5 separate regions of the Homo sapiens genome follow, and regions 2, 3, 4 and 5 are each reported to be linked to region 1. Evidence: microRNA targets listed by miRTarBase, many of them from high-throughput screens and not tested one by one. Region 1 holds a microRNA gene; each other region holds the end of a gene's coding sequence.

The links. Region 1 holds the annotated microRNA hsa-miR-384 (AUUCCUAGAAAUUGUUCAUA, at 3,189-3,208, opposite strand). A microRNA usually pairs through its seed, bases 2 to 8, with sites in the 3' UTR of a target mRNA and lowers its output. Matches are read on the target gene's strand: a 7mer-m8 pairs with bases 2 to 8, a 7mer-A1 pairs with bases 2 to 7 and ends in A, and an 8mer does both.
Region 2: miRTarBase lists CDHR1 as a target of hsa-miR-384. Seed matches in the 3' UTR shown: 7mer-A1 at 5,013-5,019, 8mer at 3,070-3,077 and 7mer-A1 at 1,940-1,946.
Region 3: the mRNA of TMEM248 is a reported target of hsa-miR-384. Seed matches in the 3' UTR shown: 7mer-A1 at 2,907-2,913.
Region 4: miRTarBase lists TRIM35 as a target of hsa-miR-384. Seed matches in the 3' UTR shown: 7mer-A1 at 3,724-3,730, 7mer-A1 at 3,427-3,433 and 7mer-m8 at 2,012-2,018.
Region 5: miRTarBase lists GP2 as a target of hsa-miR-384. Seed matches in the 3' UTR shown: 7mer-A1 at 1,440-1,446.

Annotation. Positions count from the first base shown.
Region 1 is chrX:76,916,097-76,922,196 of GRCh38, forward strand. It overlaps MIR384 (microRNA 384), which reads right to left and starts at 3,264; the gene lies at 3,177-3,264. The region is part of intron 2 of MIR325HG (MIR325 host gene); the gene reads right to left.
Region 2 is chr10:84,214,052-84,220,151 of GRCh38, reverse strand. CDHR1 (cadherin related family member 1) reads right to left here. Exons shown (of 17, transcript NM_033100.4): 17 at 1,458-6,070. The coding sequence ends at 5,531. Among named protein-coding and RNA genes, the nearest start is that of LRIT2, 8.4 kb to the left of the region's middle. RefSeq lists a silencer at 5,287-5,476 and an enhancer at 5,370-5,893.
Region 3 is chr7:66,953,560-66,959,659 of GRCh38, forward strand. TMEM248 (transmembrane protein 248) reads left to right here. Exons shown (of 7, transcript NM_017994.5): 7 at 1,943-4,992. The coding sequence ends at 1,963. Among named protein-coding and RNA genes, the nearest start is that of TMEM248, 35 kb to the left of the region's middle.
Region 4 is chr8:27,283,401-27,289,500 of GRCh38, forward strand. It overlaps TRIM35 (tripartite motif containing 35), which reads right to left. Exons shown (of 6, transcript NM_171982.5): 5 at 5,762-5,880; 6 at 1,486-4,727. The coding sequence ends at 4,150. Among named protein-coding and RNA genes, the nearest start is that of TRIM35, 25 kb to the right of the region's middle.
Region 5 is chr16:20,306,435-20,312,534 of GRCh38, reverse strand. GP2 (glycoprotein 2) reads left to right here. Exons shown (of 11, transcript NM_001502.4): 11 at 1,254-2,961. The coding sequence ends at 1,312. Among named protein-coding and RNA genes, the nearest start is that of GP2, 18 kb to the left of the region's middle.

The sequences.
Region 1 (6,100 bases):
TTGAAAATGCTTTCCTAAGGACTCTGGTATTTGTTGATGATATCCAATCTAAAGAATATCTATAACGATTGCTCTCTCTCTGCTGGAACTTCAGAGCTCTCTAATTTCCCTGAATTGCCAAAAAAAATGCTATTAGCATTTGGCAGAAGGGTCAAAACAGTACTATGTAAATAAGTTTTTGTTTGTGACCTTTCAAAGTTCAATCGGCTTTACTAGCAGGAATATACTATCTTGCCTTCCATCAACTGGACTGTTAATCTTAAAAAAAATAACTCCTTCCTATGTTTGGAAATCATTTGTACCTTATAGTCCTCTTTCTCGATATGAAAACATCCAAGGTGTTGTGATGAGGTTTCCAATTTGATTAGAAACAATTTCTTGGAGTCCTATTTTTAAAAACCATGAAGTACACATGAACTGAGTACATGGAATGTAATCTAAATTTGCCTTAATGTTTCAAGGTTACTATTATAAAAATGAATCACTGTACTATGCTGTGCTACTCTTAAGGGTAATTAAGGTATGCAGGAAAGTTATCCCCTAAGCTGATTCCTGATTGCTGTTCTTTAATAATTTTCTCCACATTTATCTTACCCTCACTGCAAGACATGGGGGTGGGGGGAGGAGGGAGGTATAGCATTAGGAGATATACCTAATGCTAAATGACGAGTTAATGGGTGCAGCACACCAGCATGGCACATGTATACATATGTAACTAACCTGCACATTGTGCACATGTAGCCTAAAACTTAAAGTATAATAATAAAAAAAGACATTTCTTCTTGTTGCTATCATCAGAGCTGACTCCAAATAAAATGACTGCTTTCTTGTCTAAAATGGATTAACCAGTTACCTTCTTAACTAATTCAGCTAAAAGGTTAATGAATAAAAACAGTTTAATATCCTTGCCTTAAATAAAACTAAACTCTTCTCCTAAGCTATATTCTCAGCCTTTACCACTTCTCAAAATAACAAATTCCAAGTGCTCATCACCCCTTTCATTTTCCTAAATTTACTTGAAATTTTGGTATTCAGGAATATAGCTAGTCCAGTAAACAAATCCAAGTCCACCTGATCCACCCTTTTACAGACTTCAGTGATACCCCTTTTACTTTTGTCTTTCTGAATAACAAGCACCCATCTTTTTAGACTATCCTCATATGATGTTTTATATGACATGTTTCTTACGTAATATCTCTCGCTACTAGTATTTTTGTTGCCATTATTCCCTTCCCACACCATATTTCTTTTCTTTTTCAGAATCAATGCATCATTCCTCAAGCATAGTAGCAACGTATTTGGTCAATGGTTCTCTGTACTAAAAAGTCCAAAGTATATTAGTGTCCTTCACTTGACACTTAGTAGATACCACCTTGCATCATTCTTTATCCTTGTATCATCAATAGCAGCCAATATTGAATATTTAGTAGGTGAGGCACACAGAGGGGAAGGAGCATCCATTTTCCAAGGCACTATTAATTTCAAATAGGCTACCTACATTTTCAGATAATGTATTCCAACTTTTAGTTTGGAAAATATGGTCACCATAGGTGAAAAAATCATACATGAAACTATCATACATAAAAAGTATATACAGTATATAATTAGATTGGCAAAACTCAGTGCTAGAGACAAAATGAACTTAAAGGGCTGGAGGAGTTTTTTGTTATTTTTTTTTTAAAGATGGGCCAGGCCAGCGCGGTGGCTCAAGCCTGTAATCCCAGCACTTTGGGAGGCCAAGGCTGGCAGATCACGAGGTCAGGAGATCGAGACCATCCTGGCTAACACGGTGAAACTCCGTGTCTACTAAAAATACAAAAAATTAGCCGCACATGGTGGCGGGCGTCTGTAGTCCCAGCTATTTGGGAGCCTGAGGCAGGAGAATGGCGTGAACCCGGGAAGCAGAGATCGTGCCATTGCACTCCAGCCTGGGCGACAGAATGAGACTCCGTCTCAAAAAAAATAAAAAAGAAAAAAGAAAAAAGAAAAAAAATAAAAGATAGGCCAGTCTGACCCAAAGCAACTAGAGGAGTTTCACAAAGAAAAGACATCTGAGCTGGTCCCTGACAGTTGAGTCATCTCTGGATACAGTAGAGATGAAAATGGGAGTGAGGTTTCTCATCTGAGCAGGTTTAAGCACCCATTTATATGACTGTCAAATATTGCTCAACAGCATCTTACAACATCAGTCAATTCCTTGGCACCTATAATAGATTCTGATGTCAATTGTTAGAAGGCCCTGCCTAATAAATCAGAGGTTTACCCCTTGGTTCCACATCCCATGTTGCTAGCTCATTCCCTGGCCTCATTTTACTGGGCTTCCTGAGATGGTCCAGTTACATTAGTCAATCAGAAGTTAACCAAAATGGCTTAATTGTTGGAATGGACTGGAGATACTCCAGCCTGAGAGAGAAAAGAATTCCAGTCGGTGATGCAATATGATCTTAACTCTCAAAGGCTAAACTAATTCAACATTTTTCTTCTTCATCTCCAAATTGTCGGGGATGATTATATAGAGATAACCTATAATAGACAATGTTGACATAAACCAATGTGTAGATCATTTCAAAATAGTAAATGAAAATAAGATAAATACAGATGGGAATCAAATATATAGATAAAACAATTACACCATGTGCATACTCAGGCCCATTAACAGGGAGGTGAGCAGGGAAAGGCAAGGAAGTTTCATGTTGACACAGAGGAGGTTGGTACAATTTATTGGGTTTCTTTTGAGTAGCCTAGGAAAACTTGGAGGAGTTAGGATATTAAAAACTGCTTACATGGAGTCGAGTAAGGTAGGGAAAAGGAAAGGAAGCTTGAGCTAAAGCTTGTGAACAGGAATAAGAAAATTTGGATGGGGCTTTAGAGGATCTGATAAACAAGCTTCCCTTTATATCTGTTTGTTGGTTTCTTTTATTTCTAGTGCCTCTTAAAATGAGCGTGTTCAAAGCCCTGAATCACCAAACAGCTAGTAAAAATTCAGGAATTTGTGAGAGCTATAAAAATTAAGTAGCATTATTATTACTAGAATTATGATTAATATGTAGACATATAAACAGACAAATAAGTAGAATTGCTAAAACAAATGTTGCAATCCAAAGATGTCATAGAGATGGCCAGTTAGCATCTTGAAGGTTTCCTATGTATTTCAGGCATCTTGTTATTTGCATATATGTTACAGGCATTATGAACAATTTCTAGGAATGACTTATGAACATTATACATATTGTCTAGGAATTGTTTAAAATTCCTGATTTAACATTCTGCCTATAACATAAATACTAGTTAAAAGGCAAGGAACTTGATCATACACTGGCATCAAATCAGAAGGCACTATTTCTGCAGGCCTGACATATAACCAGATAATTGATTATCTATAAAAAATGTAATACAGCATAGGTAATAGCCAAATAACTATACTGTATTTTTTAAGACGCATGTGTAGAAGACTACATAAAGTAAATGAAAGAATGTAAGTGCAAAGAAAATTTTGATTCAGTCCTTTTTAAAGAAAGTTATAAAACTTCTTATTGAGTTGTACAACCATAAGTCCAAACATATGATACATATTTAAAAATCTAACATTTTACAACGTGAAATACCAACATGATGGCTATATTGAAAGTAAGAACATGCTTCCTTCTGGCAATGAGCCCAAGATATCACTGCTTGGCTGTTGTTAACAAAGATGATGATGATGGCTGGTGATGGCTATAGCATATCTCTGGATTAGGAGCTGATTAGATTAGCTTAGTGCCTTCAGAGACTAATATCATGTCCCTTGTGGACGAGTTTGCATATGCCATGTTCCATTCACAGATTAAGACTGGTTTAGGCCAGCTAGCTTGCAAATACATGCCATAGGGTTTTGTTTTCAAGTGTGGGAACTGAAACCCAGAGATCTACAGTGGCTTGAGCTAGGGCACATAGCAAACTAATGAAGGGAAGAAGAGCTTCGTTCTCAGATGAGGAAAATCAAATATCAGGTCCCTGCATGCTCTGGCATTTACCCTTTTCCAAGCTAAAATTGCAGTCCTGGAATCTTTCTCCATGGTCTGACCACCTTCTTCTTAGGCTAGAAAATCATGACCCTGAGGCCCTCTTCAACTCTCCATCTAATTTGGGAATAGCCCCCACTGCCTGTATTAGAAATAGCAGCAGCAACAGTACTACTACTACTACATAGCATGCAGTATGGTGACCCTTTATATGTGATATCTCTTTTAGTTCCTTTCACAAACCCATCAAGTAAGCAATGTTATTATCTTAATTTTATAAATAAAGAAACTGAGGTTTGAAGAAGTTAAGTCACCCAGTTAGTCAGGGATCTAAGCCTTTACCTGCCCAACTCTGAAGCCCAGACTCTGAAGTACAACAATATGTTTCTTTCTCAGCATTGTGTACTGCTCTCTGCCACATCCTTCTCCTAACCCACAATAAACCTGCAAGAAAAATCTGAAGAGCCATCATAATTCAAACTTTAAAGTGATTTGGTATCACTTACAGCACTCAATAATAATGGCTGAAAAGCAACACAATCCTAGAGAATGACCATCTGTTTTAAGAGCTTAAGTGGGTATGTTTTTCTGGAATATCCCCTTAGAAATGTTTTTTGAACATTTGTTCAAACAAGTTGAAGTCTGGACACCCTCTGATGCCTTTCTCAACTGGTTAAATGCCAAGTATGACATAATCTTTCTGCATGTGGTTTGAGTTAGGTGGAAGTATTGTACGTGCCTGAGACACTGGGCAAGCCCTCCAGAGATGCTTCTAGATCCAGCCAAGAAGGCCCACTGAGGAGATGGCAGCCCTAGAATGATGGGGCTGAGATCAGTAATAGGCTGAGTAATCCTATAAGCCCCATTTAGGGGGCATCCTTCACCTGACAACTAGGACATTTGTGTTCTCCTAGTATTTAGGATATTCTCTCATCTTTGGGACAGGTCCCAGAAATGCCCAGTGGACTTTTCTTGCCTTGTGACTTAAGAGTTTCAGGGGCTCTGACCTTAAACCACTAGGCCAGCATTGCTGTGGCCTTACTTTCCTGCCACAAGTCACCTGAGCTCCACCTGCTGTACCATGAAATCATTAGGGAACTGATTAATGTCTTTAAAAGGTGCCTCCTAGTGCACATAACTGGAAGGTACTACAATCCCAGACAGTTTTACAGTTTTGGCAGAATGGAAATATTCTCTGTGGATAGATTGAATGTCACCTCTTGGCAAGGGTTTGTGGGAGATGGCTGCAGGGCCCTTCAGCAAAGCTGCCATGTGGCCAAGTCCATGTGATTGATGGGAACATGACTGTGGGAAGAGGCCAATGCTGGTAATGATGGGAGATACTTAAACCTAAGGGAAATCCCTGAATCCCCAACATCTGTGAGATGGATCAGATGAGGCTAGAGGACAAAAAGCAACAGAAAAACATTCAGCTGATATAAGTATCTAATAAAAGAAGCAAAGAAGATTAAATCTTATGGGGTTGTTGTCATAGGAAAATTATAGGTGTCAGGTCTGTTTTAACGTTCAAATTAGCAGGTAAAATATACAATGGGAGTGTTTCAAAGTTTGACACTAATGTAAGTACGGGAGAATCTTTCACTAGGCTACTTTGTACTTCTGAAATTGCCTCCAACTATTCCAGGAAATTGCACAAGTTGATGCTGTTCCTTGTAACTGAGAATGCTATTCTTTCTCTACCTCCCTCTATGCAAAATGCACCCATACCACTGAAAATTGACAATGTAATCTCCCCATACACTTGGTCTAATACTAAGGGTAGAAAAAGAAACTAAGCTAAAGGCTTCTGCAGATTTTTATTGATTGAAGATGACAAGGTTTAAAGGGAATGGATGAGATATGTTAATATAGTATTTAGAATGGGAAGTCATGAAGGCCTAAATGAGAGTGGTGGCAGTAAGTATGGAAAGGGGTTGCTGATTGTGAGAAAGATTATAAAGGAATATCCATAGAACTTGGCAACTGACTGGATTTAGCAGGGCAATGGAAGATTCAGAGATATTGCCAAGATTATTATTCTTAGTGATCAGGAAAAAATAGTGGTGCCAGTAACAGAAGGAAAGGGGTCTGGGAGGGAA
Region 2 (6,100 bases), not on the chromosome of region 1:
AAACACAATGTTATTACCACTCCTAAGAGCAGATATTTTAAAATTAGATGGACATATATATATATTTAGATATGCACATGTGTAAAACACACACATACATGTAATGTAGTAGATAATTTATTAATGTGGAATTTCCTATGATAAATTTTTGAAGAAAAGTGGTTGGAGCAAGAAAAGAACTTGTACTTCTTGTGGCCTCTCTGTACTTCCTTCCATAGCATCAAGGGGGATTGATATGGTTTGGCTATGTCCCCGCCCAAATCTCATCTTCAATCTTAGTTTCCATAATCCCCACATGTCATGGGAGGGACCCAATAGGAGGTAATTGAATCATGGGGGTAGTTTCTCCCATGCCATTCTCATGATAGTGAGTAAGTTCTCAAAAGATCTGATGGTTTTATAAGGGGCTTCCCCCTTCACTCAGCTCTCATTCTTCTCTCTCCTGTCGCCATGTGAAGAAGGACATGTTTGCTTCCCCTTCCACCCTGAGTCCTCCCCAGTCATGCAGAACTGTGAGTCAATTAAACCTGTTTCCTCTATAAATTACCCAGTCTCGGGTATCTTTATTAGCAGCATGAGAACGAACTAATACAGTGGTCTACGGATCTTGAGGGTGTCACCATCATGAAATAGCCTGGGCTACCATGAAGGTGAGAGTGGATGTTCAGACCTTCAAGCCAAGCAAAAGAAGCTTGGTGGTGCACATGAGACAGAGGGGTCAGGATGAGAGAAGGGCTGTGGAAGAGCAGCAAGCAGTGCAGGGGAGAGCCAGGAGCATGTTGGTGGGTAGGGAAGTATTCAGTTGCTTCTGTAAACATAGAAATTTAGGGAGAGGGAAAATGGTCTAGGGAGGATTTCTGAGAATCTGATACTTTTTAAGATGCTTGGGCTGCCCCTTGAAAAACTCTAGAGTACAGATTCACATTACTCAGATTGAATAAGGCAATTTCGCAGTGGGGATGCAAGAACAGACCCTGGCTGGAATGTGGTTTCTTGGGCTTAAATTTTGGTTTTCTTACTGACTTTGTTGTACCAGGGAAGTTACTATTTTTCATGTACCTTAGTCTTCTCACCTATAAAATAGAATAATAATAGTACATTAGTGTTCTCACCTGTAAAATGGGGATAATAACAGTCCTTACCTCATAGGGTTATTCTGGTAATTATACGAGGCTTTTTTTTTAACATACAAAGTTCTCAGAACAATACCTGGCACATAGTAAACCCTCAGTAAATGTCACAATAATAAATGTTACCATCATTTCAGGCATCTACATCAGTTTGTGCTTTCTTTGAATGTGACTCAGCACATAGGGCCATTTGGAATATCACATCTTATTAAGACTACATATGTGTGTATACTTATAAATATATATATGTAATAACATGATATCTGGGCTAATATCCTTCACATGTTCTGTTTAATTCATGTTGAAAAGATGCTACAGTTTCCGATATAGTTGTCATGCCCTTGAGAAGCTTATTTATTTAGAGTTTAGACCATACAAGTTTAAGGCAAATGCCTTTGATTGAGGAGACATTTGTAAGCAGGGCTACTTGCTTTTAAAATGAAGACTCCCTAGGCCCAGGCGATTAGCAATTAAAGAGAGGAATGTTGTTCTTTTTCTTTTCTTCTTTCCTTCTATCTTGTTAGAGACATACACCTAACACCTAGAAGAGAGCCTGGCACAGAAGATATACTCCAAACTTGTCACCCTAGGAATGGCTGAGTAAATTATTGAGAAATGAATAAATAACCGAACCTCATTCAGGCCTCAAAAGGGGTACATGTGCACGATTTTATAACATCAAACCGATGTCCCCAACATCAGCCTGTTGCTACTCTGCTTTATTGATCAAATGATGGTCGCTTAAGCCATGACCGCCTCATTCTGGAAACTAGGCCCTTCAGAGAACCCCTCCCTAGGTTGTTTGTGAGTTTCCTAAGGGGTCCTCCATGTGGCACATGCCAGTCTCCTGCCTCATTCCTCATGTGGCATCTTCTCCATTCTCCCTCTCCATCCCTTGGTGGCCAAGGCCTTGAAGACTGTCAGGATGTGCCACTGCCTGTCAACAGATGCCAACACCCCTGGCAGGTGGACTGGCCTTGGATTCCCTCAACGCCTTCAGTCCCTAAAAATAGAATCACCGAAATCCTTAGAGAAGCAGAGCATGGTGGCTCCTTCCCAGCTCTGATCACACTTTTCTAGCAGGATTCTGAGGGACAGCTGCTTGAGGACAGAGTGCCACAAGTTCTTAGAGACCTCTCATTGTTCCTAACTCCCCTGGAATGTCAACGCCCAAATGCAGGCTGCCGGCTACACAGGCCACAGATGCTGTGGCATCTGCCCTGTCCTCCACTCCCCTCTGGATCCACTCTCTTCTCTTTTTCTAGCATGAAGTAAAAGCTTCTGGACCTACAGGTGGGTGGAAACATCCTGGGGGGTGAGGATGCATGGAGGGGGTCCTCTCTTTCAGGACATGGTGTTCTAGTATGTGGGCCACAGTCACGGCAAGTGTCTACTGAGCTTGTGTAAGTAGATACAAAGCCGGTGCTAGGCACTTTACATATATTAGATCTTTTCATCCTCTCTGCAACCATACTTTGCACCCTGTGTTAATGAGGAAAGTGAGGCCCAGAGAGACTTGACCTCTTGCCCAAAGTCACAATTAATGGCAGAACCAGAATTCAGACCTAGGGCTGTCAAACTGTAAAGGACTTTGTTATTTCACGTGATTGGAAGATCTGAGCTCAGCCGCAGGAGGAAAATGACTCTGCAGAGTATTTGGTGTCACATCCATTTATTGTCCATGAGGCTACAGCTCCATTCTCAGGGCCAGGAATGGGCAAGCCTGCCCAGTGTGCCATTCCTGCCTCCCAGCTCTTTCCCTGGAGGCCTACCATGGTGCCAGCCTGGAGCTCTGCCTGTCCTACTGGGACCTAGCAGACAGCCCCTTGGCCCACCATTCGTAACACAGGGACTTGGCTGGCCTCACCCCACTGGCGGGGTCTCCTCCAGTGCTGACAACACTTGCCGGTGCCTTAAGTTTGGCTGCACCCTCCTCCTCTTTCCTAGTGTGGCTCATGCTGGCTACCGGGCACTTCCCCATCCATGGCCAGTTTGCAAGATTGGCTCTGCCTTGGTCCAAGTTCCTGGGGTTGTCCAAGAGACCACCCTCGGTCCCGGATCCACTTGCAAGCCCAAGCTTCCAGCCTAGAGGTCTTTAGGACGCCTGTCTGAGAGACGACAGTGCTTCCCAAGCTTTCATGCCCACCCTAGGCCTCCCAATTCCTGCCCTTGCCGGGCTGCACTGGTAGGGTGGGAGAGTGGGCAATTAATTCTAGCTCCAGGTTCCATTCCTCTCCATGCAGCCCTGCCTGGGCTTGTCCTGTTTGGGAGAAAAGTCCAGTAGACAAGGCCTGCAAATGTCCTGCTGTTCAAGATATCTGCATGGCAATTTGGACAAAAATTTTCAGCCTTCTTTAGAGTCACATCTGGGGGTCGAAGAATGGATCCACCTGCTGAAGCAGCCAGGAGGCAAGTTGAGCTTCACTGTGTGTCAGAAAGACTGGTCTCCACAGGTCAGCAAACATAAATGAAAGCAGGGAGCAGGGGATCAGCATGGCCTTTGGGTAACAGACTTTATTTTCCATTTACAAAAGAGGTTGATTGCATGCAAGCTGTAAGGATGCTGTATTCCCTGTGGAGGGCAAGCATGATCCAGCACAGTCCTCTCCTGAAACACAGGCTGGAAAGTACTTATTTGCTCAGTCTGGGCTCCTGGATTGCTCGAGTCCACCTCTTGCTTAATACTGTTCACGTTGGGGACTGTAGAAACCCCAGCAAGGATTCTGCACACTGGCACATCTCAGTAACACCTCCAAACACAGACTCAGAAATCAGGAAAGCCACAAATGCATACAATCTCTTTAAATGAAATCACCAATGTATTCTAGAGGGGTTGTTAGTAAGTAGAGCCAAATGCAAAGAACTGTTCTACTTTTCTCTCTCTGTGCACACATGTAGATTTCCTGATAGCAGGTTCCTTAAAGCAGGGCACAACCTATTTGTATTAACCCCAGAGGCCTTGTATGACTTCTGTCCTGGGGAAGGTTGTCACAAGCTGATAAGGGCTGCCCTGGCTAGACAAGATCTTTGCTACCAACCTGCTGTGTGGCCTCAAGCAAAGCATTCCCTCCTTGAGAACTCATTTTCTTCATCTTGGCAAATTAAAGACTTGGAGCTCTGGTTCTCTCTGACGGTAGCTGGCCAGGACGGTAGCGGGGATGGAGTGAGGGAAGAACAGAAGTAGAGGTGTGTGAGTCACGGCAATGCCATCATCCAGTGGTAGCCCCTAAGCCCAGCACAGTGCCTGCTGGGGCGCTTGGCAGAGTAGATGTGAGGCTCCTAATACTTTCTGGAAGAGCTGCACCCACAGAACTGGGCTGCAGAAAAATACTTTGCATTCATGCCGCTTTGCACTTGGTTAAAGCCCTCATCACCACTATTTTCTTCAATCCTCACCCTAGACCTGCATGTGAGGTAGACAGGGCCTACTTTCTTCATTTACAGATGAGGAAGAGGATGATCAGCGACTTTAAACAGCTTTCCCAAGGTTACGCGATGTGAGCAAAAGAGCTGGATAAAAACGGAAGTCTCACCACATCTCAGCCCTGATATTCATCAACTGCCCTGAATTGTCTCTTCAAGGATGGCTGGTGGGGCAGCTCCTCAGAGAGCAGCCCTGATGCTCTTCTAGTTGCCTTTAGGGCTACCTCTATAGCTCCAGCTTTGACATTTTGCGGCTCAGGGCAGTCCTGGCTGGAGACATCTGCCCTCACTCTTGGCAAGATCAATCTTCCACCTCTGTGTCCTCTGTCCCACGTGGGCATACCAGGGTCCACAGTCTCTGCCCAGACAGAATGCTCTATCTTTCCAAATGCATCCTGGCACAGTCCCACAGTCAGTGTGTTTTCTGTGCATCCTTGCTCTCCCCTTACCTACATTTGCTTTCCTACAGCCCACGAGGTTCGCTGACCTCCAGCCTGAGACAGTGCTGAGCCTCCTTTTCCTGCTCCTGCTCTCAGCTGCAGGCGTCAGGATCCAGATTCTAGTCAGTGTTGCTCCACGTGGCCAGGGCCCTGCTGCTTGACTAAGGATGATGATGAGATCCCAGTAGAACCTGAGGGACTGTGAGGTCTGGGATGGGTGAGCTGGCTTCTCGTCAATTCTCAGCCCTGAAGAATGGAGGGCATTGTAGTAGTGCCAAGGATTTGAGTAACGGGGACGTATTTGCCAATTGCATCCTAGAGCCCAATGTCTTGCCCAAGGCCCTGACTAGAGCCCTGTCAGAGCGCAACTTCTTGTTGCGCCAGAAGGTGGCGGTAGAGATGAGGACAGTGGGGATTATACCATTGTGCAAAACAGGGGTCAGTGACCTTAAGGAGCAGAGGAAGGGGAGCATAGTCCGAGCAGCAGGGTGGTGGGGGTCAGGGGCGGAGGAAAGATGGGGGGTCATAGGGCATACACTAGAAGTAAGCCTTGTTGTGCACACTCTTCTTCTCAAACTTTTGCTTGAGCTCAGAGATCAGAGTTGACTGGACGGGGCTTCCCATAGTTTTGGGTTTTGGCGGGGGTTGGGTCGGCTGCGGAGTGAGAGAGCCAGAGACAGTAGGCACGGTCCACTGGGCTGCGCCAGTGCTGGGCGCCACGCTGGGTGGTGGAGGGAGAGCCGGAGCTCTCGGGAGCAGAGAGCTTTCTGGGCTGTTGTTGTTACAGTTCTCATTGGGAGGTTTCTCTTTGAGCATGAACTTGGTAGCGGCTTTGGTGCTCTTGGACTTGAGCCACTCAATGCGGATGGTGCGGGGCGCAGGGCTGGGCCGCTTGCGGAGCACCCGCCGCATTGGCAGGACCTTGTTAGACTTCTTGTTGCGCCAGAAGGTGGCGGTGGAGATGAGGACAGTGATGGCCACGACGGTGGCCATGGTGCCGGCCAGCACACCCACGGCCTTCATGGGGTTGTCCTTGGTCTGTATCAGGAAGGCAGCCATGGGGCTCCGGGAGAGGGTCTGAAAGAGAAAGCCACTCCCTGCACTCAG
Region 3 (6,100 bases), not on the chromosome of region 1:
CTTCTGTAAAATGGTACAGTATTTGCATATGACCTCTGCACATCCTCTGTAACTTTTTTTTTTGAGATGGAGTCTCGCTCTGTCTCCCAGGCTGGAGTGCAGTGGCACTATCTTGGCTCACTGCAGCCTCCGCCTCCCAGGTTCAAGCAGTTCTCCCACCTCAGCCTCCCGAGGAGCTGGGATTACAGTCGCAAGCCACCGCGTCCCACTAAGTTTTTGCATTTTTAGTAGAGACCGGGTCTCACCATGTTGGCCAGGCTGGTCTCAAACTCCTGACCTCAAGTGATCCACCCGCCTTGGCCTCCCAAAGTGCTGGAATTACAGGTGTGAGCCACTGTGCCCAGCTCATCCTCTGTAACGTTAATCTCTAGATTACTTTCTTTTTTTTTTTTTTTTTTTTTTTTGAGAGAGTTTTGCTCTGTCACCAAGGCTGGAGTGCTGTGGCACGATCTTGGCTCACTGCAACCTCTGCCTCCTGGGCTCAAGTGATTCTCTTGCCTCAGCCTCGAGAGTAGCTGGGATTACAGGCATGTGCCACCACACTCAGCTAATTTTTGTATTTTTAGTAGATACAGGGTTTCACCATGTTGTCCAGGCTAGTCTCGAACTGCTGTTATCAAGTGATCCACCTGCCTTGGCCTCCCAAAGTGCTGGGATCACAGGCGTGAGCCACTGGGCCCAGCTTCTAGGTTACTTATAATACCTAATACAATGTAAATACTATGTAAATAGTTGTTACAGTGTATTTTTAAAACTTGTGTTATTTTTATTGTTGTATTCTTATGTATTGGTTTTTTTTCTTTTGAGTATTTTTGCTTTTTTAATTTTTTTTTTTTTTTTTTTTGAGACAGGGTCTCACTTTGTCACCCAGGCTGGAGTAGAGTGGTGCGATCGTAGCTCATGACTCAATCATAGTTCACTGCAGCCTTGACCTCCCAGGCTCAAGCGATCGTCAACCTCCTGAGTAGCTGGGACCACAGGCATGCATCACCACACCTGGTTAATTTTTGTATTTTTTGAAAAGACAGGGTTTCGCCACATTGCCTAGGCTGGTCTTGAATTCCTGGGCTCAAGCAATCCACCCACATTGGCCTCTCAAAGATTACAGGTGATTACAGGTGTGAGCTACCATGCCCAGCCCTCTTTTGTGTATTTTTGGTTGAATCTGTGGATATGAAACCCACAATTACAGAAGGCCAGCGGTAGTTTCTGTCTTCATTAGAAGTGTCTTTACTCTCAACCTAAATTATGTTGTTGGATTTTTAATCATATACCCAAGCCTCTGTTGCTATTAAAGGGAGTGACTTGGCAGTTGTTCTCAAGTCTCCACTGGAGCACTACTGACTCTGGGTAGCTGCCTCCTCTGTAGTTCCATCAGCATAAGAAGTCTTCTAACAGAATGCTTATCAAGGTTTAAAGACAGTTACCTCAGCTAGGTGGACCTGTAATCCCAGGACTTTTAGGAGGCTGAGGCAGAAGGATCACTTGAGCCCACGAGTTCAAGACCAGCCTGGGCAACATAGTGAGAACCCTTCTCTACTAACAGTTAAAAAATTAGCCAGATGTAATGGTGCATGCCTGTATTCCCAGCTACTGGGGAGGTTGAGGAAGGAGAATTGCTTGAGCCCAGAAGTTGGAAGCTGCAGTAACCTACGATTGCACCACTGCACTCCAGCCTGGACAACAGAGCGAGACCGTGTCTCAAAAAAACAAAAACCAGTTAATTCTGTCTCCGCACAGTGGTTCCAGATGGGCCGCGTCTTGCAGGAGACTTTGAGATTTCTAGTAATTTCTTCCTAGGTGAGATTTTCTTTTTAGGGATTTAGTAACTTCACTGTCTGGTTGATATGTGCAATTAGTGTGGCATCCTGGTCTTTGGGTAGGGGCTGAGTTACCTAGGCTTCCCTTTTTTGACTGGTTTCCCTGGCTTGCTGTCTTCCAGGTGGCTTTGGCTGAAGCCTAATTCCACAGCTCCTTGTTTTTTGAGAGAGACTGAGAGAACCATAATCCTTGCCTGCTGAACCCAGCCTGGGCCTGGATGCTCTGTGAATACATTATCTTGCGATGTTGGGTTATTCCAGCCAAAGACATTTCAAGTGCCTGTAACTGATTTGTACATATTTATAAAAATCTATTCAGAAATTGGTCCAATAATGCACGTGCTTTGCCCTGGGTACAGCCAGAGCCCTTCAACCCCACCTTGGACTTGAGGACCTACCTGATGGGACGTTTCCACGTGTCTCTAGAGAAGGATTCCTGGATCTAGCTGGTCACGACGATGTTTTCACCAAGGTCACAGGAGCATTGCGTCGCTGATGGGGTTGAAGTTTGGTTTGGTTCTTGTTTCAGCCCAATATGTAGAGAACATTTGAAACAGTCTGCACCTTTGATACGGTATTGCATTTCCAAAGCCACCAATCCATTTTGTGGATTTTATGTGTTTGTGGCTTAATAATCATAGTAACAACAATAATACCTTTTTCTCCATTTTGCTTGCAGGAAACATACCTTAAGTTTTTTTTGTTTTGTTTTTGTTTTTTTGTTTTTTGTTTTCCTTTATGAAGAAAAAATAAAATAGTCACATTTTAATACTACTCTAGTTAGGACAGACTTGTGCTTTTATCCTGACTAAAAAGTTAAATATTTAAGTCACATACATGGTAAAGATCTAAGTTTCATTTTCCACATGGATGACCAGGAACCTGGTCTTGTTGGAGCTGGCATAGGAGGTTCTACTGTCTTGTCGTCCACTCTTGTCCCTCCCTTCTGTTATCAAAGTTAAAGCGCCTCTTCACTCAAAAGGGCTTCAAAATGTAAATGGCTCTAGAGTTAGAGTGACTGTTTGCTCTTCTGCTTTCTGGAATGCAGATGACAGTATGGAAAGAAAGAATAATGATTCTATCTAATAGGAAAGGATTTCTTCTTTCTTTTTTAAAGAGTGGGTGGATTTTCTCCCTTTTGTTTTGCTTTTATTTTCATGCTACTAACATATCTTCAGAAGGAAATGGCAACTAGTAGATCAGTAAAATTACGAAAACGATGCCTGCAAAATTTGAAGGAATGCAATTCTGATTTGCCATTTATCAGGGAAAACTGAAAGCATTTTTCTTATAACTTTTTTTCTTTTTCTTTTTTTTTGGAGGGGGGAGGCAGGGTCTTGCTCTGTCCCTCAGGCTGGAGCTTAGCTCAGTGCAGCCTCCAACTCCTGGGCTCAAGCAATCCTCCCACTTTAGCCTCCTGAGTAGCTGGGACTACAGGCGTGTGCCAGCGCGCCTGGCTAATTTTAAAATTTTTTTGTAGAGACAGAGTCTCCCTCTGTTGCCCAGGCTGGTCTGGAACTCCTAGCTTCAAATGATCCTCTCACCTCGGCCTCCCAAAATCCTGGGATTCCAGGCGTCAGCCACTGCTCTCGGCCCTCTTACACCATTTTGTTTGATTGTCTAGTCCCTGTTTCTTTTTCTTTCTAATCCTTATTCATTTAAGCAAAACCATACATTATCTTTTCCAGTCCTTTCTTGTATTCTTACTGTTTTTTTAAAATAACTTTTTGCCTTAATAGCTCATTGTCACTAATAACTTCTGTGTTCTCCCAGGCAGTGTTATAACAGAAGGGCAATGAAAACATTGGACATGACCATGAGTGCTTCCTTTCCTTAACTCTAGGTTTGTAGTCTGTTTTAAATTAGGATTAGTTCCTGCATTCTGAAATACATTGGCCTAGAACATTTTATCCCAGGCATTTTTGAATAGAAAACAGTTGCGTGCTTTTATTGAAGATTGTTAAAATAATCACCATAGTAACTTGATATGTTAGTATTTTTCTTTTTCCTTTTAGTATGTTTCAAGTGCAGTAATCGTACTTGTCTATCCAGTTTCTATGTATGATACGAGTTGCTTACACGATGCATGGCTAACTTGTTAATTTAGTTTTCTCCTTAGAGACTTTGAGACCCTTAAGAGACAAGATTGAGAAAGAGCCATGTGGCTTGGCTCTAGAAACGTCATTATCATTAGGACCATCAGATTTTAGATTAAGCTGCTATTGAATTAATAAAATCCCAATGAAGCAGAGTTATAGGGATAGATTTATAGCTGGCAGAGTGGTATCAAAGGAGAAAAACAGTGAAAAAGCCAATTTCACTGGTTCGTTCAATCCAGCTTGTTGCTAATATTAGTTACCCTTGTTTTAATGACAGAGAGTGGCTGGAATCTGTAGCTAGGGGAGGGGCAACACTGTTAGATGTGAGGAAAGGAAGTGCCAAAAATGCCTGGACAGATGGCTTGTCCCAAGGCCAGGACACACACTTTAAAATCCAACATTCACCTAAGCAAGTAATTCTTAAAGATCTTACAGAAACGCAGAGTCAATCAGGTTTATAAAGGAAGGCTGAGGGGAGAGAGGAGGCCTGGGGGCCTGGACGAAGAGGCCTAGGACCTGAAGAGACTCCAGCGAGTCTCGGGAAGCCCAGGGGACCTGTCACCATCTGGGCACTTCCCAGGCTCAATGCTCAGCCAGAGTTTGCTGGTGGACCTCAGGATTCGAAGTGTGCAACAGACGGAGTGCGCTTGCTGTTCAGGGCGGCCCCGTGCAGGAGCACCAGCTCACCCTCAGGCATCTCGGACTGGAGGGCCAGCAGAAGGTCAGCAACTTACTCTTAAAACGATTGTTTCGGATCATATTGATCTCTTTCCTTTTTCCTTTTGTCCTTTCACTGTATGACTTGAATCAGTTTTGATTCTATTTGTAAGTGTTTCTTGTCGTGAGGCACCTGCCATGTCTGTTGCGTTTTCCTCGGCAGCGTGTAGGGCTTCAGCTTCCTGGGTTTTCACCCTTCCTGCAGGCACTGTGGGGTCCTGAGGGCCAGTGGGTCCATTTCACCTCTTGCTGCATGATGGTCAGTAGCTGATCTGTTATGGCATTCACTTCCAGATTAATTTTCCGTGTTTGAAGTATGTGCATATGTGCTTTACAGAATAAAACATCTGAATTTATTTGCTCCGCGTCTTCTTCCTCCAGCCGGATGGGTGTTTTCTAAGGGAAGAACGTGTGCGATCAGCAGCTGAGGGTTTTTTGCAAGCTGCTGCTTTGAAATGTCACTTCTCATTTGGACGAGGGGTGGTCATTATTCTGCTGAAGGCAGCCTCACCCAGCACATGCATCTTCCCCCTGAGGGTACAAAACCTCCTGTAGCTTGCTAGACCAACAAGTGCTTGCAGGCCTGACCCTAATCCTGCCCAAGGAAGTAAATAATAAATACCAGCAGGGAGCACTGAATAGACATAGGAGTTCCAAGACACCCCTCTCGGTGACATAAACCCTCAGCATGCACTAAGCCTGTATGCCCAGCCGCAGGTGCCCAGCCCGCTCTGCGGTCTCCTGTTGCAGAGCTCTGGCCCGCTCTAGACCTCCTTTGCCAAGACAGTGCATCCTCTGCAGTTTCCATAGCTAAAGGGAGATCGTATTCACTAATGTGAATCCTTCCCCTTTCCAGCAGCCAGAGGCTCTGTGTCCCTTCCCTTCCCTCCCCAGCAGGTGCTGGGGTCGCAAGGTCAGTCTCATGGTTGAGGAAGGTGCTACTCAATGAGCTCTTTGTTCCTTCTGCCTCCACCTCTCCCTGCCTCCTGCCTGGAACAGGCAAACTCTGCGTGGAGCGCAGTGTTATTTCCTGCTCTCTCCTTGGACTCAAGTATTTGTGTAGGTGGTGATTCCCCTCCATCCCAGTACAGAATACGCCTTGGAGGAGAAGAACTCATGTCTCTCTGCTGTCTTAGCCTGGTAAAACCTGATACGTGCCAGGTTCTCAAGTCAGGTCAGAGGTTTTGCTTTAAAATCATTTCATTTTCCCGGTGGGCCCCCTGTGCTTCCAGTTCCCTCACACTCACGGATCTGTAAGGATTCCCCCAAAAGTGGAATGAACGCACAGACTATAGCACTCCGGAGTCTACTCAAGGTCATTGTGAACTTAGTTGCTGTCTCAAAGAAACATTCTTGCCTGGAGTTCGAGACCAGCCTGGCCAACATAATGAAACCTTGTCTCTACTGAAAATATAAAAATTAGCCGGGCGTGGTGGGGGGTGTCTGTAGTCGCAGCTACTTGGG
Region 4 (6,100 bases), not on the chromosome of region 1:
CCTCCACCTCCTGGGTTCAAGTGATTCTCCTTCCTCAGCCTCCCAAGTAGCTGGGATTACAGGCATGCGCCACCACGCATGGCTAACTTTGTATTTAGTAGAGACGGAGTTTCACCATGTTGGTCAGGCTGGCCTCAAACTCCCAACCTCAGGTGATCCACCCACCTCGGCCTCCCAAAGTGCTGGGATTACAGGCGTGAGCCACCGCACCCGGCCTCAACAATCATTTATTATGGTCCAGCAACATCCACAGATTTGGGGCCTGAAAGAGGAAGATGACATGCTTCCTGCACTCCCAGGTCTGCAAGCAGAAAAGACAGCGAGGTGCTCTTCCACAAAACAGGCGGCATGCAGTGGCAGCCCAGGGAGCCCCGGGCAGGTCTGGGAAGGCACCTCCGAGCTGACAAGGGGGACTGAGCGACAATAAAGGGAGGGCGACAGGCGCTGCAGGCAGGAGGAACAATGGGACCCTGCACCCAGGAAGGCTGGGCAGGGTCTTTGTAAACAGTGGTGACCGTGGTTGCAGGAGTCAGCCGGGGAGGGGTCTCGAATGTCACTCTGGAGGTGGGAAAACTCCCGCCACTGCCCCATCACTCACCACAAGGGTCACGAAAGACTTCCACTATTGTGATATTGAGCAATCAAATACTGTTGAGAGAAATTTCATCCCCCACAAGCAAGAGGAAGCAAAAAAGGAAATGGCCCCTGTGCACCTAATTCTGACCAACTGATACCTGGTGGCTGACGTGGACATGACTGGGAGCCTGGAGGTTACTGAGGCTCTCGTGTGCTCTGAGACTCCAGTTTCTGAGGTGCTCACACTGCTCAGACATTCAGGAGGTGGGGAGGGGCCCCACTTCTACAGATGAGAAAATAAGATCAGGCAGGCAGTGTGTGCCCCAGGAGATATCACGTAAGCGGCAGAGCCAATATGATCAGGAGAGCCAGAGCAACCAAGGTCAGGACATTCCAGTGACAACGGGCCCCTGGTGAGGGCAGGTGGCCTATTTCAAGGGTAAACAGGAGCCTGGTCCGGCTGGAGCCATGTGTGACGGGACTGAGAAGACTCCGGGTATAAAGGCAGAGTGCAGTGACAATGTGCCCTGAGAGCTGCCCTGGAGAAATGCACTGCAGCGGGTTGGAAATGGGGTCTCTCCAGGTGATGGGAACATGAACGATGGTGCATGTGGAATGGATGCAAAAGTGGGAGAAACTGGAGAACGGGGGCCTTCCCAGAGAGCTGCTGCTTTGAGCCTGGACACAGTAATGAGAAGGAGAGTGACGGGGTGAGTGGAAGGCAAGGGCAGGAGAGGGGCTTCAGGGAAGAATTAATGAACTCGTGGACTAGCGCTTCCTGCCAACAGAATAACTGCCCCATCCCTGAGCCAAAACCCCGAACTTACATGGACCTAAGGGCAGTATCAAAAGTGAGATTTCTAGGATACATGTACAACAAAAGAAAAAATAAATAAAAATTGGACATCATCAAAATTAAAAGCTTTAGTATTTCAAAGGACATCATCAAGGAAATGAAACAGCTCACGGAGAAAAATTTTATAATCATATACCAGTTAAAGGGACTTGTGCCAGGCTATAAAAGGACTCTTACAACTCAATAATAAAAAGACAAATAACCCAATTAAAAAATGAGCAAGTGATCTAAAGATAGCTGTCCTAAGAAGATATGCAAATGGCCAATAAGCTCATGAAAAGATGCTCAATATCATTCGCCATCAGGGAAATGCAAACCAAAATCACAATGAGATGCCACATTACCCCTACTAGGATGGCTAAGTTAAAAGATAGATAATAAAAAGCACTGAGGGATGTGGAGTCATCAGAACCCTCATGCCCTGTTGATGGGATATAAAATTGTGTCACCACATTGGAAAACAGTTTGGGAGTCCCTCAAGGGTTAAATAGAGTTTCATATGATCCAGCAAATCTGCTCCCAGGCATATACCAAAGAGAAATGAAAACATATGTCCACACAAAAACTCATACACAAAAGTTCCTAGCAGCATTATGTATAATAGTCAAGAAGTAGAAACGATCCAAATGTCCACCAATCGATGCATGATAAATAAAATGTAGTACTACCATTCCATACAATGGAATATTACCCGATGAAAAAATAAAGTTGAACACATGCTACAACATGGATGAACTTTGCTTATAAGAACATTGAAAAGAAAATGCCAAAAGAAAAATGAGTTTTAGCTCAAATTTTTTTTTAAGAGGCCTAGCCTGCTCAAGTTATCCTGTTAAAAAAAAAAAAAAAAAAAAAACTCTTCCCATATCTAAGGTGAAAATAAAAAACATTTTTAAAAGTTTAATATAAAGAATGAAATAATTTCAGGTCAAGTTTATTATACAGAAATTATATTAATGGGTGGGATAAATACTTTACAGGAGAGGGTCACACTCTCAGACACTTTGGCTCCCAAAGGGCTTGGAGCTTTTGTGAGGCTGAGCATCTTCCAACCAGGTGCATGCACTGGTTTGCCAACATCCTCACCACGCCCAATCCAGCCCCTTCACACACTGACATCGCCTACCTGGGCCCTCCTTGTGGCCTTAAGTTTTATCTAACCAGTGTACACAACATATTTATAACCAATTAATACGTGTGAGTCATGATTTGTTTAAAATGTCAGCTTTTGTGAACTGAAGGGGATGGGCAGAAGGCAGGATGCTGTCCTTGGTCAGGAATGTGACCCAGATTTTAACACTGCTCCTAGGAAAAAAAAATATTTCCTTTTATGATGCCACTTCCTGGGACATGATGAGCTGAAGATTAAAAACTCTTCAGAGATGTGCGAGAAAAAACAAGCCCAGGGAAAAGTCTGCAGGCATGGTGGAGGAAGAAATTAGGGATGAAATCGCAAGTGGCAGAGCAAGCATGACCAGGCTGAAGTCAGCAGAGACAAGAGGGCAGCGAGGCCCAGCCTCCTCTTCCCTCTCCCACAGCGTTTAGGGCCACGTCCATGGCGCCACCCCTCTCCTTTCTTCCCAACTGAAAAGGGTGCCCTCTTTCCTTCTTTTCTGCAGACGCTGATGAGAATTAACCAGAGGAACTTCCTCCACAGCAACTATAACAGGACATCCTCATCCAGTCCTCCTATCTCATTTCCTGGTGGGGAAACAGGCCTGGCAAGGAAATAGGCCGAAATCACGATTTAAAAAATGTTGTGTTTAAGTACTCTGGAACCCTGTGTTCAGAGGAAATCGTGCAAGAATAGATCAATCAGAGCTGATCTGATGGAGACGGAGGATCCAGCCACACAGAGGCCCTGCATTAACTGTATTTCCTGTACTCTTGATGCTCTGGTATCTGGGGCCTCGCTGACCTGGACAGACTGATCCTCCCAGGCTAGCCAATCCCCCAATCCCTAGAGATGGCAAGCATCTGGCTGAAAGCATGCCTTTCCTATGGAAACCAACTAATCCGGAGCGATGGCGCCAGCTGCCTCCTTCACATGGCTCTCCCAGGGCTGTCACACCCCAGGCCAACATTCACCTGTCCTGACTATCCCGGGGCCAGGTATCAGACAAAAAGGGCAGCCCCTATCCTGAGAGCCACTGAAATTACTCAAGCCAGCTACCCTTAAACCTGTCTCCCCTGCTTACTCTGCCTTGCCCATTTCCTCCTGAGGAAACCAGAGGAAGTCTCTTGCCCACACGTTCCCCTCCCTCCTTCCGCCTTCTGACCCACCGTGGGGCTTTCCTATGTGGCCCCTCCTCTCAGAACCGTAAGTAACAAACTCTCCTTTCCATGGCAGTCCCCTCCTCATCCAATGGCTTTACCACACCTCGATGAGATGGTTTACAACAGGCCCATTCTAGAAGTAAACATTATTCCCAGAAATCCTGGAATAGGGATTCAGAAAATTCACATTGTGGAGGTGCCACGACTCGGGAGAGCCTGGCCAGCGAGGTGCCACCCGAATAGCTCCTGACCATGGGCACAGAAGGGACCAAACATGGAGAGAGGCACAGCCTGGAGTCATGGAAAAGGACCAGGCAGGACAGGAGGAAGAGCCTGGCAAGGAGGCAGGGGCGCAATAGTGCCCAAGCAGTGTGGGCATTAGGAAGAGGGCAGAAAGAAAACAGTGCTGTGGCACAAGACCGGGGCAGCCCCGGGCCAGCTCAGCCATCCAGTTCTTCCTTGACACTGATGTGCAAGGGGCAGATGCGCAAAGGCTCTGGAGGCCCGGCGCCCCGTGCACCCCCCAGGTAGAAGTAGGGGCGAACCTCCCCAAAGCGGGCGTGGAAGGTGTACAGGTGGCAGTGGCGCTCCGCGTCATAGAAAGACAGCTCGCCCTCCTCACACTCCAGCTCCACACGCAGGCGGCGTGGGATGGCCAGGACCAGGGGCGACGTGGCTGGGTCCGAGGTCACGCAGTGGTCCCCCTCCACGCCCTGCGTGCGGCAGACATACCAGAAGCCCGAGCGTGTGTCGTGGTAGCAGCTGTGTGAGTGGCCCTCAGCGCCCGAGTCCTGGCGCACACGTACCACGCCCACCCTCCAGCTCTGCAGCCCCCCAAGGGCCACCTCCCAGGCGTGCGAGCCCTGTGAGAAGACACGGGAGCCCAGCAGGCAGGGCGCCGAGGAGAAGCGTTCCGGGTTCTCCACCTGCACGCGGTAGCCATGGTTGGTGACGCTGGTGAGGTCGTCAGACACGGAGAGCCAGCCAGCTGCGGTGTTGGGGTCAAAGCTGAAGGGTACTGCAAGCAGAGGCGGAAATGGGGAATCAGCAAACCTGAGGTCCCTTAGGCCACACGTGGATATCTCCAGCCCCACAAACCAACCACTGTGTCACACCTGGCCCCAAGTCCATGCAAGGAGTGGCCCAGGGCTGGAGTGGTGGCAGGGGTTGGGCTGTATCCCCCAGAAGATATGCGGCAGTCCCAACCCCTGGTACCTCCGAGTGTGACCTTATTTGGGAATGGGGTGGTTGTACACATATTAGTTAAGATGAAGACTGGAGGAGGGTCCCCAATCCAATATGACCTGTGTCCTTAAAATAAAGAGGAGACAGACACAGATACACAGGGGAGAATGCTGTGTGATGGCGGAGGTGAGGATCAAAGTGCTGAGGGGGAGCCAATAAGGCCAAGAATGGCCAGGAGACACCAGGAGACGGAAGAGGAAATGAAGACTCTCCTCTACAGGTTTCAGAGGGGGCCTGGTCCTTCCAACATCTGGATTTTGGATTTCTACCCTCCAGAACTGTGAGAGAGTCAACTTCTGTCATTTTCTAGTTTGTGGTCCTTCGTTATGGCAGCCACAGGAACTCATACAGGCAGAGACTCTTAACACTCACACGACCAAGGGATGTTAGGACAGCACGGCCCATTCCCTGAGTCAGTGATATTCCTCCCCGTAAAACCAGGACACTGTGGCTCATGTGGGCTGCAGTCGCCTTAGGAGAGGCAAGCCCAGATGCAGGAGGTCTTTTATCATACAAAACACAGTTCTGAATAGGCAAGAAAGCCAGTTTCCCTCTCTGAAGAAGGGACCAAGTGTCAGGACCCTGAGAGAAGGCATTCTACCAGGAGGGTTGGAGGTGTTGGGCAGAGTGGAAAAGACCAGGGTACAGGAACCTGCCTGCGAGGGACTGGCAGAGGGATCAGCTGAGAGAGGAGGGGAGCTCTGAGGAGGTGGGAGGTGGGCCCGGCAGAGACCAGCCCTGGTGCCTCTTTGCTAACATGAAGGGCTTCCACCCATGCTTGGGACACCTGCCGGCACCCCCGCTCACCAGATTCCACAGATGCAAGCATCTTCTTCCAGACGCGGTACTGCAGGGAGCCCAGGTACTTGCAGACATCGATAAGCATGCCGGGCTGGACTGGCTCTGGCTCCATGGTGCAGAAGAGTCTGGAAAAGTACAATGGGTATGGTGGGCAGGGCCAGAGCCATGCAACCTGGGCCGAACTGGGCCAACTGGAAACCAGCAACAGGACTTGTTCCCTTCCCTCAGGCCCAAGTTTCCTGGCCACCTTCTCCAAGACAAGACTGGACTGGGCTACGATGGGAGATGGGCCAAGGCCAACAGGGCTGCCATCTCCCTTCAGCATTCAATCCGAGGGCTCACCCT
Region 5 (6,100 bases), not on the chromosome of region 1:
TGGTAGATTTTGGACGCTTCTGGACAAGGAGGGGATCAGTCTGATGTTGAGACAGCCTACCCACTACAAGAGGGCACTTGTGGTTTTCATTGTCTGCTATCACAATCATCTTTGATGTTTTAGAATTAATTGAACATCAACCTGTTTTTATAATTATAACTTTTTGTCATGTACTGTTCTGAAATTTATGATATTTCTCTCCTCACTTCTAGGACATCAGCCAGTTACTTTGAAATTGGGGTAATGGGGAGATTTTACAATTTGGTAGTATGGCAGGAAGGCTCACATATTTCTCCTAGGCCCTCTGATACAAGACCATTATCATCTGGGATCCACGTCCTTCACTGAAACTGAGTACACAGTGATGTGCCAAAGAGATACAATCCCAGCAGAACTAGATCTTAGAGTCTAGCTTTTAAAACCAACATTTATATAGTGTTTACCATGTGCCAGGCAATGGTCTCAATGCTTAATATGAACTCACTCATTTAAGCCTTACAAAAATCCAGTGAAGTCACAGCTGCTATTAATATTTCTCTTTGGCATACAGGAAAATACAGGCAGAGAGGTTTAATAACTTTTCTGGGACTGCCCAGCTAGGTGTAGAGCTGAGATTCTAAGCTAAGTAATCAGGCATCAGAGGCAGTGCTTTTTAACCTCTGTGTCTTTCTGCCCCTTCAGTATTAGTCAGCATAAATAATGCTAGCTGCTGTAACAAACAGTCCCCAGTCTTCTGTGTCTTTAGACGACAGTATTGTTTCCCACTAAATCACTGGGGGAGGGGATGCAGTTCTGCTCCATGTAGTCGTTAGGAGCTCAGGCTTCTACTACCTTCTGGTAACTTCTGGTAACTCCACTATCCCCTGCAAGTCCTATCTTGGATCCTCTGCATCTGCTCCCTAGATGGTTGATGAGAGAGCAACAGGATATATAGGAGGCTTTAAGGATCAGACCTAGAAATGGCACAGATGACTTCTATGCACATTTTATTGACCAGATTCGGTCACATGGCCCCACCTAGTTGCAAAGGACACTGGGAAAAATTGCATTCCTGTGTGTCCAGAGGAAAATGAAAAAAATGGTTGGTGATTAGATTGCCTCTACCATGTGAGTCCCAGAGACTATAACTAGGCCAGATATCAAAGATGCTTTGCCTTTCTCATCCTTGTGTTGTGAAAGACAAAGAGGCCAACTTATGTTTGCTCCTGACTCCCAAAGCCCAACACTTGACAGTCATATTTCTTGTATTTCAGGGTTCCTGGTGGCCTGGCCTATGGTCCTCCTGACTGTCCTCCTGGCTTGGCTGTTCTGAGAGCTCCGCTGAGCATCTGGCCTTGAAGTTTGTGTTCTTCCCTCTGGCAATGGCTCCCTTCAGCACTTCTGCTTTCCACTCCAATTCACACAGGCTTGGTATTAATAGAATCAAGGCCAAGCTAGGTTAGGAAAAGGGAAGAGCTTTCACCTTCTTTAAAACTCTCGGCTGGGCGCAGTGGCTCATGCCTGTAATCCCAGCATTTTGGGAGGCTGAGGCAGGTGGATCACCTGAGGTCAGCAGTTCAAAATCAGCCTGGCCAAAATGCTGAAACTCCGTCTCTACTAAAAATACAAAAATTAGCCAGGCATGGTGGCAGGCGCCTGTAATCCCAGCTACTCGGGAGGCCAAGGCAGGAGAATTGCTCGAACTCAGGGGGTGGAGGTTGCAGTGAGTTGAGATTGTGCCATTGCACTCCAGCCTGGGCAACAGAGCAAGACTCTGTCTCAGGAAAAAAAAAAAAAAAAAAGAAAAGCAACATAGTGGGGTTTCTGTCAATCTGTCCTCGGCTGCCCTTCTCATTTGTTGATGGGACCTTGAAAGCAAGCTTGCTAGGTGCCCTCTGTGGCTCCAGCCTTTACCGGAAGTGTGGTGCATGTTTTTAACTTCAGGGAAGCGGTATCCTGTCACTGGGGTATGGGATGAGCATGGAGAAGAGGCACCAGCCACGATTCCTTCCTAAGCATCTCCTGTTCTGACTGCTCATGAATTGAAGAAACTGACCCTTGTGTTCACTCTGCTTCCTCTGATTGTTTCTATCATGGTTTCCAAAAATTGCCATGGGAACATGTCAAAGGGCCACTTTTGGAGACTCTGCTCCAGGAAGAACTAGTCCCCATAGCTCCCCTATCCCCCACCATACCACAGACATGCTGTGACTTAGAGAACTACACAAACATCCTTGGGACCTAGATGCTGGAGGAATGACTTAATTTGATGCAGAAACTCCATCACCCAAGGGAGTACCTCTCACTGTAAACAGTGCTGTGCTTGCTCTGAAGGATTAAGCAAGAAGTCCCAACAGAAGCAATGCACCAGTCCTGCTATGGGAATGAAACTGCAAAGCCTAGGAGATGGGTGAAGTCCCTTTCTGGAGACCTTTAATGAGTACTTCAAAGCACCCGACACAGATGCAGCAAATAGGGCATCACACATACACAGGCATTAATACTCACGGGCATATAGATGCTGACATGTGTACACTGACTTACGCCCTTCCCACAGCTACAGATAAGGCCTCGCAAAGTTGGCCTCAGAGACACATCAGGAACCAAGGTGGACCAGCAGGTGCCGAGCCTGTGTATCTGCTTGGAGGAGACGTTCCAATGTGCTGCCTTGTTCAGAGATGGTGTAGTTGCAAGAAACAGAAACCCACCACAATTTCTCAGGCAAAAAGGGAGTTAATTATAAGGACATAAGAGCACAAAGTTCCAGTGCAAGAGATACATCCAGGCTGCACAAGCTCCGGGAGTGGGGCCTGGCAAGCCAAAAGAAACCAAAGTTTGTCTTGCCTTCTGTTCCTCTTTCTGAAGCCACATAGCCTTTTATGACTGTGTATTTTTGCATCGCTTTTGTTTTCTTTTTATGTCTCTGAAGCCAGCTTTTCCTGTTCACTCATCCCTTGATTAAATATGGACATTCTAGCTTCACATCACTTCCTAATTCAGGGACCAACAGAGACTGGTTAGCATGTTGCTATCCCACCTCCAAATTGCATCAGGGAATTTGATTTTGCTGCTTGGGTCAGGGTCCAGTAGTCTGGGCCAGGGGACTGGGACCATCTAGCACATAGCCAAAGGGGCTGACCTAATGGGGCAGGTCTGACACAAATGGGGTCATTTCTTGGACAGACATCCCAAGGGCCACTATGATAGTGGCTTCTCTAAAAGACGGGTTCCTGAGAAGAATTGCATTCTGTTTCCCAGTGAGTTAGCGGAGTCATACTTACTACATCCCAAGGCAGGTGGCATGGTAGAAACAGGCCTGAAAGAGAGGTCAGGTTCTAACCTTCTCCCCTCTCTGAGGCTCAGCTGCTCCCTTCTGTAGAATAAAAGGGGTTGGTCTGTAACAAGATTTTCAAAAATTTATAGTAGTGAAACTTTACAATTCGACTTGGACAACCAGAGATTAAAAGCAAATAGATTCTTGTTGATGTCAGGTGGGGAGCTTAGCTCTCCCATTCTGTGATTCCTTCCTCTGAAGGCCCTCAAAGCAACTCCATAATAACTCACAGAGCTGCCAGAGCCGATGTTTTGGAGCACCCTGAGACATATGAACTCTAATATAACTTCCAGGAGAAAGTACATAGGATTCCACTTAGAGCCAATCTCAGCTGTCTATCTGTCTAGCTACCTGTCATCTATCTATCCATGTATCTATCTATGTATCTATCTATGTATGTATGTATCTATCTATCTATCATCATCTACCTCCTATCTACCTATCGTCTACATACCTCCCTACTCAATTATCATCTAGCTAGCTAGCTATTTACACCTTTTTGTTTTCTACAAATGGGCATGTTGTCTGAATAACAATCTCTGAATGTCCAGTCCACTTCATTCATTCATTCAGTCAACACAAATTTGCTTAGCAGTTTTTATGTCCCGGGTCCAAGGGCCTGGGTACAATAATTAATTAGACACAATCCCTTCCCTAGGAATGTTCCCAATCCTGGCAGAACACAAACTCACATAGAGGCACTCACAGGCAAACCACAAACACACATGCCCACTTAGCCCCCCACACAGGCCTGTATACCCAGAGGCGTCTATCCACACCAACACACACATTCTAACAGACACACATATCAACCTCACGTGCCCAAAGGCACAGATGCACATGCAGAAAGCCTCAGAGACCCTCAAGTCAGCCACTTACATATTTATTGTCATGAATTACTTTGTAACAACCAATATTTTTTAACACCCCCTACGTATAAGGCATTATTTTAAGTGCATTTTGGGCATTATATCATTCCACCCTCACATTAGACATTGAAGGTAGCCACTATTATTACCTTCAATTTAGTGACGAGTAAACCGGTGCTTTAAAAAGATAATTACTCAAAGGCCTATAGCTTTTAAATGCTGATTTCAGGGCTTGAACCCAGGTAGCCAGACGTTGAAGCAAATGCTCTAAACTAGACTCTGTATCCTGCCTCCATTTATATATAACACTTAACACACACACACACATAAACACACACACACACAGTGCGGCACCCATATACACACAAACGTATATGTGTATAACATATATGCACCCACTTGCAAACAGGTATGTGGACAGACACATGCATTTTCCAGCAAAGGCCCTCACACATACACAGGCATTAATAGTCATGGGCGTATAGATGTTGAGATGTGTGCGCTGACTTATGCATCATGATTTAGTGCAGACACACCAATGGAACTTCACATATAACTTAATACAGAAAAAAAACCCACAGAGACACTCCAATGTGTCATACGTGCACACACATATGTCTGCACATGCACGCATACATATACACATAAACACACACATACATCCCTACGAGACACAGGATCTGGATCCAACTCTCCTAGAACCAGGATTCCTGCCATGTTTCTCTCCCATCAGCTTACATCTCCCACCCCCAGTGCTGTTCAGCTGGGCTCTGGGGCAAGATAAATTCCAGCTGCAGAGGGCTCAGTGAAATGGGCCCTGGACCCAGCATCTGAAAGTTCTGGAGAGTAAGGATGTTGGGGATAGCCAGAAGCAACCTGAAGACTAGTCTTCCATACCCAGGAAGACTGGCCTCTCAGGTTTGAAGAAGCCTTTGCAAGCAGCTGGTAGAGGATACCGAGTGGCTTAAGGTGCCCTCCCCTCCAAGAACTTCAACTCTTCTTGGGGAAACAGAATGCAGATACTGGGCAGCAAAAGCTTAGTAGTGTAAGACTGAGACAGATACTGCAAGACTCAGAGAAGGGAGAGCTCAGCCCAGCCTGGGAGAAGAGGGAAGGGCTCAATCCCAGTCCCTTCATTTCATGGATGGAAATTAAGGTCCAGCAAAGACAAGTGGCATGTCCATCCTTAATGACCAGGCAGGGATGAAGGTGGCAGGGAGAAAGGTAAAACTGGTCACCTGAAGGAAATTTGGCATGGGAACCCCAGAGGATACACCCCACCCATCCTAACTCATTTCATAATCTCTCCTCACTCCGTTCCTCTCTTTCAGCCTCTTTCTCCTGTGAAGGGCCAGAAATCACCCTCATATTTTCTATCATATTAGATTCTCCCTTCTAAAAGTCTATCAAATTCATCCACTTTTCTTCAACCCCATTGAATCTGATCTTTTCCGGGCTACTTTCATCTCTCACCTTAACCACCATAATAGCTTCTTAAGTGGCCTTTCTTCAGGCTCACCTCTCTCAATCCATTCTCTACTCTGCAGCTAGTGAGCATTTAAAACAAAAGACACTTTCTCCTTTAGATCGCTCCAGAGGCTCTTTACCTTCTATAGGATGAGTTCTGCCTGCTTACCTGACAGATCACATTCTTCACCATCTGAGCCATTGCCTGCCTCTCCAGACTTAGCCCTTAAACATATCCCCTTCATAACCCAGCTTCCAGTGCCACGGAATTTCTCAGGCTCCCTGAGCTGTTCTATTGCACTCTACCCTACTCTCGTGTGCTGTTTTGCTGCCTGGAGGACACTTCCCCTTATTGGGGTTATTTCTCCTATGAAGGCTTCCTGGATCCCCCTGTCCAGTGTAGAGTAGGCAAATCAATCAATAGAAAATAGACCCACAAACGACAAATAAT